Linked DNA regions of Homo sapiens: region 1 is linked to region 2. A link means that fine-mapping ties the variant in region 2 to the expression of a gene that starts in the linked region. Tissue or cell type: whole blood. Region 2 holds a variant in brackets; the other region holds the start of a gene. All regions are shown on one strand. Distances are between the middles of the regions.

Region 1 (5,000 bases), 29 kb after region 2:
GCCCAGCAGGCCTACGAGCCCAAAACAATTTCTTCTGGCTCCAGGCAGAGGGAAGGCCCATTTTGCAGAGTCAAGCTTATTAAGAACAGCTTGGAAGATTAAACCTAGAGCATCAGCCGGTTGGCAGGTCTCAATTCAAACTCTAAGCTTGGAGGAGAGGAAATTCTAATGTGATCTATGCATTTTGGGACCATGTCAGCTACTGGTAAAAATCCAGACTTGCATGGGTGCAAAGGATGTTTCTGTCCCATCATTCAGGCCAAGAACATCCTCTTCATTTCTAGAAATGGGATCCACCCCGTCACCAAGCCCCACCATTCCATACCAACCAGCCTGGTGGAGGCCCACGCCTCTGCCAGGGCCCTTCTCCCAGCAGCTCCAACACCTAAAGCCAGTCCCCCTAGTGCAACCCTAGGAGCTCACAAGACTGGCTTGCCCCCACCTGAGACTAGCAAGTTGGGTGGACTCAAATTCAGCCTCTACCCTGGCAAAAGTCAAAAGCCACTGGAAGCACATCCTCCTCCTTTCCCTCTCCTGGCTTCACTGTTTATTGCTTATATTCAAAAGACGCTGAATCAAGAGCTATGTTTTTGCACATAACCACATAGGCTGACAGTCCCCAGAGACTAATGCTCCTAGCCCACCAATTCCCATAGCCCACCCAGACCCCTATTTTCAACCATTTATTAAAATGCAACACCACCCCTCCCAGTCTTTCCTTTAGTCAATGTTGAAAAATCAAATTATTAGCAAACCTACCTGTCTATACTCTGGGGTAACCTTACACTCATGGTTTCTCGGTGTCTCCACGGTTCCAGAATCCTGTAGCTTTGGTGTCTTGATCAGGATTGAATCGCTTGCAATTTTTGAGCAAGGTGAGAGGAGGGCCTCCCAACTTGAAGATAGAATCCTTTCTCCTCCAGCTCTCAGGACCCTGGTAACTGATGCTCCACTCTACTTCTACCAGTGAACATGATTTCCTTTCTCAGCCCCTCTTCCCCTCCCCCGCTTTAAAAAAAAAGAAAAGAAAAGAAAAAAGAAAAAAAAAGGAAAAGAGGAAAAACTACGACCTTCTCAGAAACCAAAAACCCAGCCACGAATCTCTTCAAGGTTAGCACTATGGCCAAAAAAAAATGAATCACAGAAAAATGTGCCTTCAAAATATCACTGTTAACTGCAAAGTACAGATAAAACCATCCTTTAAATCCAGCTTTCTCAGCTGTCCTTCTGTTGGCAAGAGACCCTCTAGCTCAAAGGGGGAAAGTAATTTTCTAGTCTCCAATGCTTAATATGACAACAGCAAATATCTTTGAGGAAAGGAAAAAAAAAAGGATTAATAAATCCGAAATGGCACTTGGAAAAATTCTTTCGGCTGATTTGTACAGTAAAATAATAAATAAAACCATACAATAGTATGTACACAACAGCACTCCTTCCAAGTCCAGTGCAACCCTGGGAACCAAAATTTATGGACTTCCTTAAAAAAAAAAAAGCTTTTACATTAAATGTTTTGAAATTCTTAAATGAGCCAATTGCACCAAAAAAAAAAATAAAATAAAAATCAAAGAACACCTGAAATGCAATGCTTTTTACCTTTAAGATGGTAGTAATGATAACAAACCAGAGATAATCTCTGAAAATATTCTCTCCTTTTCTTTTTCCTTTAAACTTGCAGGTTCCTCCACCTACCCCAGCCTGATTCTCAGACCCAGCCTACGTTCGGCCTTTTTCTGAAAGACAATTTCCTGAGTTAGTTCTGCTGTTGGGCTCCTCCACATCCAGGCTCCGAAATTTTCTCTTGCCTCAGCCTCCATGAAACGGAGATTTCGCTTCCTCCCGTTCCCCCTTCTCTCTCCCTCTCTCTCGCCCGGCCAGAAAGACGGCTCCCTTATTATTCGTTCGGATTATTATTGTGGATTTGAGTTCGAGGTGGGTTTTTCTTCCACACCAGACTCCTGGAAAATCCGATCGCCTGTCTCCTCTCGGCCTCTCCTTGCCTCCCTTTCCGCCCCTCGCCTAATCTCGCAGGCAGGAGCCCGCAGTGCCTCGCGCAGGACGCCCGGCCGGGCCTCGGGCTCCCGGCGCCGCTCGCCCCGCGCCCGACCGCCGTGTTCCGGCCTTCGCGGCCGCTCGGGACGCCAGGCTCGGCGCACAGGGAAGGCTGCGGCGGCTGCGGCAGGCCGGCACGAGCGGGCGTCCGACTGCCGGCGTCGCGGCCGCGCTCGCCTCCTTCCGGGCCCCTTCCCCCTCGGTTCGCCGCTCGCTCGGGCGCAGGCCCGGCCGGCCGCCCCCCTTCCCTCCCTCCTTCCCTGCGAGCCTTTCTCCTTCCCTCGCTCCCGCGGGGCGGGGCCGCAGGCTCCTCCTCCTCGCTGCGCTGCCCGCCGCCCGCCGGCCTTTCCCCTCACGCCGCGGCGGCCGGGGGCGGGGGCGGGAAGCTGACCGCCTTTCCCTGCCTCGGTTCCCGCGGCCGCGACTCCCGCCGACCGGCCCGCCCCTGTCCCGGCCTCCCTGCGCGCCCTGCCCCCCACAACCCTTTGCCGTCGCTCCTCGGCCGGTCCCCTCTGCGGCCCCTCAGTCGCCGGCCCTGCCCCTCGGCGCGGCCTAGCGGGTTCCCATCTCAGCCGGATCCCCGGCCCGGCCCGCGGGCGACCCCGGCCCTGACCCCGCCAGGCACCGCGCGCCGTCCCCGCCGCCGCCACCGCCACCGCCACCCCTGCCGCCTTTTCGCCGCTTTTCCTCGGCTGCTTTTCCCCCTTTTATTGACTTCTGCTCGGGAGCCGACCTTTGTTTCCTACCCCCTGCCCGCCCAGCCACCGTGCCCGCGCCCCGTGCCCCTGCCCACGGGTGCAGGTTTACCTCTTTGCGTCCACCGGCATTACCCCGGCGCCCGCAGCTGCGGCTCACCCTCTCTCCACCTCTCTTCTGATCTTATTTTTCAAACATTTGTTGCGGCCTCCTTCGTGGTGTCAGTTCTTTTAACTGTTTCCTCCCGTTTCTGTGGTCCTTCCCACTTCTAATACCACCGACTTAGGGGGAAGACCCTTCGCTGTTTCCTCTCGGGTTGGGTTGGGCATCTTAATAGCAGGCTGTGTGAAGTGTCTTTGAACTCTATGGAAGAGCCTTTCCAGAGCAATTCTATTTTCATAACCCCCTCTCATAGAATCACAGTTTCTAAATCTTTACAAGTAACGTGACATTTGTCAGAAGGTGCCGAGCGTTATGATTAAAAATCATTAAGGCCGAGGCGGGGCCTGAGGTCAGGAGTTCGAGACCATCCTGGGCCAACATGGTGAAACCCCCCCCCTCTACTAAAAATACAAAACTAGCCGTACGTGGTGGCGCGTGCCTGTAATCCCAGCTACTCGGTAGGCTAGGGCACGAGAATCGCTTGAACCCGGGAGGCGGAGCTTGCAGTGAGCCGAGATTGCGCCACTGCACTCCAGTCTGGGCAACAGAGCGAGACTCCGTCTCAAAAAACTAATAATAATAAAATTTTTTTTAAAAAATTATTAAAATAAAAAAACTCTCACTAGGATTGGGGAGTGGACTTTGCCTTCTTGCCTAGGTAAATGCCATTGTAAAATACTCTGCAGGCAGTGGGGTGTTTGCATAAGTTCTCTCCTTTCACACTACCTGGATTGTTCTGGGAGGGGGTGGATATGTATATGTAAATTATCTATACACATTCGTGAGCTCTGGAGTGACCTCACCAGTGTTAGAAGTGGTAGATATGCAAATTGCAAGAGGAAAAAGAAACGAATAAGCATCAGTTGAAGACCTACTATGAACCAGGAACTTTCCCTTTAATGTATATCAGGTATAGGTTGGCAAATAAAAGAACCTGCTTCCTTCACCCTGTCTCCACCAACCCCTAGGCCAGAACTCCCCAAAACAGGTGATCTGCCCAGCATTTGAAGCACAGTCTAGATTGTTGCTGACTTAATTGTGTCTTTCTTTCCCATACTACCCGCAAAAATGATGCTCTCAAATGTGGACACTGCTCTGTGGTGACAGACCACTGGTTGCCACACATTTTAAAATAATGTTTTCTTGGCCAGGTGCGGTGGCTCACGCCTGTAATCCCAGCACTTTGGGAGACCGAGGCGAGTGGATCACCTCAAGTCAGAAGTTCGAGACCAGCCTGGCCAACATGGTGAAACCCCGTCTCTACTAAAAATACAAAAAATTAGCTGGGTATGGTGGGGAGCGCCTGTAATCCTAGCTACTCCGGAGGTTGAGGCAGGAGAATCGCTTGAACCCGGGAGGCAGAGGTTGCAATCAGCCAAGATTGCGCCACTGCACACCAGCCTGGGTGACGAGTGAAACTCCATCTCAAAATGATAATAATAATGATAATGTGTTCTTAATATATGTAATATTTTTAAAGCAAGTATTTACATATATTTTATTACATATCTTATACAACATTGCCTAGTGTAGAAATATTAAAAGGTTGAAATTTAAAAATGAACATTTTTTAAATCATGCTTTTTGGTGAAAGTTAATTGCTGTCATAACTGGAAAAGATGCTTGCCAAAGATAGGTAGATTCAAACAGAAGAAGTATGCCCTTGATTGCATTTATTAAATCATGATACTTATTTTCCAATCCCATTCATCAACAATGCAAAGACTTCTAATTGAAATTCAACTAGTAAATTTATATCTTAAGTCAATCCTTCTTGAATGATTGGAAGGTGTTACATTTTTATATTCTTAACAAATGGGTTCCAGCCATTAAGAAATTTCATTTAACTTTAAAAAATAGGTTTTCAAATTCTGTTTCCTAATTTTTCAGTGTGCAAAGGTTTTGATAGGTGAAACCATTGTTTTTGGTAATTAAAAAAATCACAATATTGGAACCATTTCCAGTCATCCGTCTTCAAAATACTTTTTCCTAAAGTATGTGTTTCTTTAGAAAAGCAGTGACTTCCTCGCTCGTAGATAGACTGTCATCTTAACCTTGAAGGGACAGCTTGAAGGGACAGATTAAGCGGTGTT
Region 2 (5,000 bases):
GAGTGTAGTGGTGCCACTGTAGCTTACCGCAGCCTCAAACTCCTGGGCTAAAGTGATCCAATTCTCTCTTAAAGGAAAAAATATTTCCTTGACCCAACAATCCCCTCTAGCTATTACCAATCAACCAATCTCTTTTCTCCACTTCTCATCCAGACTCCTGGGAAGAGTCGTCTACATCGACTGTCTCCAGTTTCTCACCTCCCACTTACCCCTCAATCCACTGCAATCTGGCTTCTGCCTCTAGAACTCTGATGAGATTGTTTTCAGTAAGATTACCAACAGCCCCTCAACTGAGAAGTTCAGAGCATTTTCTTTTCCAGATCTCATCTCACTGGACCTCTCTCTGCATGCAACAATGTTGATTCCTCTTGCTTTCAGACTTGCTACTTTATCCTACCCTTCCTTCTTAGGAGACAGTGCGTACTCTCCTTTTAACCAACTTTTGTAACAATGCGGACTCTCATTCTTGTCTTCAGCCTTCAGTCTCTTTTAGATTTCAGGCTCCATATGGAACTCTCTAGGGGACAACACAGCCAACAGATGCTCAAACTCAACACACTGACAAACTCATCTCCATGCACCACACCTCTGTCCTCCTCTCGTATTCTCTCAAGCCCCAGGTAGGAATTCTGGCAATCAATCTTGACTCTTCCTTTTCTCTGACCACATAGCCAGTTAAACAATACATCCTGGACAATTTGATACAAATTGTCTATGCTTCTCATTTTCCCCTCTACTTCAGGAATTTCAGAGACTGCTTGATATAGTGGTTAAGAGGACAGAACCTAGGGCCACACTGCCTAGATCTGAATCCTAGTTCTACTACTTACCAGCTGTGTGATTTGGGTAAGGTGCTTAATGCTCTGTCTCATTATACGCAGCTATGAAATGGGGACGCTCACAGGCTGTTATGAGGATTAAAGGAATTATTATGTGCAAAGTTCTTAGAACAGTGCCTGGTACATAAGTACTATATGAGTATTTATCAAACAAACAAGCAACCCCACTCTCCTCCCCTGGCTGGGTTATCTTTACCCTGCTCCTAACTCACAGGGCACATCGCCATCACTGCATTCATCTTGCACTGTGGTCATCTATTTAATGGTCTTTGAGCTACTTGAGGCAGGGATTGTCTTATCCATCTTTGCAGCCTGAAGGTCTACTGCCATAATTACACTCTAGGTCCTCAGTAATGCGCAGTGTGTGTCTGCTAATGGTCACAATATCCTGAAGGGCCTTACTGCATGCAGCACAGGCATGTGTGGATTAGTGCCTCTTTCCACTGGAGGAGGAAGCACTGGGATGGAAGGTCAGCCATGGGACTCTTGGCGACCTGGCCCAACGAGCATGTCTCCCAGGGGGAGCCAGATACACTCATTCACCCAATCAAAAACATTTACTGAATTTCCACCAGGTGCCAGTCACTTTGCTATTATGGTCCCTGCCCTCTGGGAATTCTCAACTGAGGAGGGGGAGAGATACCTTTTCACAATATGGGGATTGGAAGAGTGATGTGATGACTACTGCAGTCTTAAAAATAAACCAGGAGTGTGTGGATATCTCTAAGATTTTAATCCGTAATGAAACAACAAAAGAACAGTAGGAAAAACGCTTGCCAGGAGTCAGACTACCCAGCCAATCACAAATAAGACCTAAACCCCCAGGTGTCTATTGTGAGGACTGAATGAGGCACCCATAGCACCCATTACAGGCCTGGCACATGGTCAGCGAGCAACAAAAGGGAGCTACTTCTAATATTACTGTTTTTATTTATTTTATCTTTTTATTTTTTTTGAGACAGACTATTGCTCTGTCTGCAGTGGCACGATCTTGGCTCACTGCAACCTCCGCCTCTCAGATTTAAGCGATTCTCCTGCCTCAGCCTCCCGAGTAGCTGGGATTATAGACACCTGCCACCACACCCAGCTAATTTTTGTATTTTTAGTAGAGACAGGGTTTCACCATGTTGGCTAGGCTGGTCTCAAACTCTTGGCCTCAAGTGATCCACCTGCCTCGGCCTCCTGAAGTGCTGGGATTACAGGCGTGAGCCACGGTGCCCAGCCTAATATTCCTGTTTTTAAAATTATTTTTCTCTGTTGTTAGGTTGTTTGGCGTCTGTTCATTTTGTGTGTGTG[G/T]TAACAGTATTGTGACTGTATTTTTAAGCGTTTTCATCTTTTAGAGATACATACTGAAAAATTTACAGATAAAATGTCTGTGATTTGCTTCATAATCTGATGAAGGGTATGTAGGAGTGTAGACAAAATGAAATTGGCATGAGTTGATAACTGTTGTTCCTTATCTCATCCTACTCTTGTTTGAAATTTTCCATAATAGAGTTTTTATTATTTATTTATTTATTTATTTATTTATTTTGAGAGAGAATCTTGCTTTGTCATCCAGGCTGGAGTGCAGTAGCACAATCTCAGCTCACTGCAGTCTCCACCTCCTGGGCTCAAGCGATCCTCCCACCTCAGCCCCCAAGTAGCTGGGACTACAGGCACACCCCACGACATCCAGACTAGTGAGATTTAAGGCTAGAAGCTAAGGCTGCTGCCATACCATTAAGATTTAAAAAAGAAAATAGGAAGGAGAAGAACTATTGATAAAGATGTATTCCTTTCAGGCTCCCCATAATAATAAAGCAAATATGGACAATCAGGATGGCGAAGAGGTGGAACTTCCCCAGATAGCTCAGTTTAAATACTTTCTTATCAATGACCTCCAAGTATTCCTCAGGCAGTCATACCCTTCCAGAACAGCAGGGTCTGCAGAGATCATCTCACTGCCCAGATTCTGAATGGTCCTGCCTCTAAATTCCCAGCACACTCTGTATCATAACTACCATGGCACTTATTACACTTACTTGTTAAATTATAATTATTTGTTTGTATGTCCGTCTCTTCCATGAATCACTAGTGTCTGATACAGTGGGTACTAAATGTTCACTGAATTAATAAAGAAATGGAGAAGGCCGGGCGCAGTGGCTCATGCCTGCAAACCCAGCCCTTTGGGAGGTCGAGGCAGGTGGATCACGAGGTCAGGAGATCGAGATCATCCTGGCTAACATGGTGAAACCTTGTCTCTACTAAAAATACAAAAAATTAGCCGGACGTGGTGGCACGCACCTGTAATCCCAGCTACTTGGGAGGCTCAGGCAGGAGAATCACTTGAACCCAGGAGGTGGAGGTTGCAGTGAGCCAAGACCGCGCCACTGTGCTCCAGCCTGGGCAACAGAGTGAGACTCCGTCTCAAAAAAAAAAAAAAAAAAAAAAAAAGAAACGGAGAAGAGGATTTAATAATTTCTTTTGTTTTGATTTTTAAAGAATTTCTGGTAAGAGAGAATCTAACATCTGCTCCAAAGGTCTACCAAGAAGTTCTAAAATCCTGATATTCTCCAAAACTCATAAAACATACAGATTGGAATGAAGAGGTAAAACTGTCATATTTCCAGACAACATGACTTAGAATCAAGCAAGCTGATTCTAAAATCCTAGAGAATTAACAAAAAAGCTATGAGAGAATAGGTAAATTTAGCAAGGTTTCAGGATATGAAATCTATATATAAAAATCAAGTATGTTTATACATACCAACAAAAATAAATGAAAATTGATAATTAAATACTACCAGTTAAAATAGCCTCAAAAATATGAAATAGGGATAAATTTGATAAGAAATGTATAAGACTTGACACTAAAAACTACAAAACATTGCTGAGAGAACTTAATGACCTAAATAAAAGAAGAAATACATGGTATTTATAGACTGACAAACTGAATGTTGTTAAAATGCCAATTCTCTCTGAACTGATCTATGGTTTCTGCACAATCCCAATCATAATCTCAGAAGGCACTTTTACAGAAACTGACAAATTGATTCCAAAATCTATATAGAAATGAAAAAGACCAGCCGGGCGCGGTGGCTCATGCCTGTAATCCCAGCACTTTGGGAGGTCAAGGTGGGCGGATCATGCGGTCAGGAGATTGAGACCATCCTGGCTAACATGGTGAAACCCCGTCTCTACTAAAAATACAAAAAAAATTAGCTGGGCGTGGTGTCGGGCGCCTGTAGTCCCAGTTACTTGGGAGGCTGAGGCAGGAGAATGGCGTGAACCTGGGAGGCGGAGGTTGCAGTGAGCCGAGATCGTGCCACTGCACTCCAGCCTGCTGACAGAGCAAGACTCTGTCTCAAAAAGAAAAAAAAAAAAAAGAAATGAAAAAGACCTAGAATACTAAAACAATTCTGGAAACAGAAGAACAACATTGGAAGACTTGATTAACTGATTTTAAAACATATTGTAAAGCTACAATAATCAAATCAGTGTGTTTTTGATATAGATCAGTGGAACACAGTAGAGTCTGGACCACACATATACGATCAATGGATTTTCAGCAAAGATGCCAACACAATTCAATGAGGAAAGAATATGATTTTCAAGTAATGGTGCCAGAACAACTGGACCTCATATGCAAAAAACAGTAATAAATTAACCTCAACTCTTCTCTCACACACTACACAAAAAGTAACGAAGAATAAATCACAGATTTAAATGTAAGAGCTAAAACCATAAAATGTCTAGAAGAAAACAGAGGAGGAAAATCTTAGTGGCTATGAAATTGGCAAAGATTTATTCATTAAATACAAAGAGTACAAACTATAAAAGAAAAACCTTATATATTGGATTTCATCAAAATTAAGAACTTTTGTTCCTCAAAAGACAAAGCATTTTACTGTATGCAAATTTAAACAAGTTTTAAAAGACACTGAAAATGGATAAAAGACCCAAACAAATACTTCAACAAAAAAAGGCATATACATGACAAAATGACACATAAAATTATTATTAGTCATCAGGGAAATGCAAATTAGAACCACAATAAGATGTTACTATGTATGTACTAACATGGTTAAAATTAAAAAGACTGAACTTACCAAGTGTTGACCAGGATATAGAACAACTGGGAATAGGATACACTGCCAGTGGGAATGTGAAATTATAAAA

The links. PIP is the estimated chance that this variant, and not a neighbour inherited with it, causes the effect.
Region 1: ARHGEF11 starts here. The variant in region 2 is fine-mapped to the expression of ARHGEF11 in whole blood (INTERVAL, PIP above 0.99).

Annotation. Positions count from the first base shown.
Region 1 is chr1:157,043,540-157,048,539 of GRCh38, forward strand. ARHGEF11 (Rho guanine nucleotide exchange factor 11) reads right to left here and starts at 2,203. Exons shown (of 41, transcript NM_198236.3): 1 at 760-2,203. The coding sequence starts at 791. RefSeq lists a silencer at 2,114-2,413.
Region 2 is chr1:157,014,457-157,019,456 of GRCh38, forward strand. The region is part of intron 1 of ARHGEF11 (Rho guanine nucleotide exchange factor 11); the gene reads right to left. Among named protein-coding and RNA genes, the nearest start is that of ARHGEF11, 29 kb to the right of the region's middle. The variant G/T (reference allele first, on the strand shown) is at 2,136.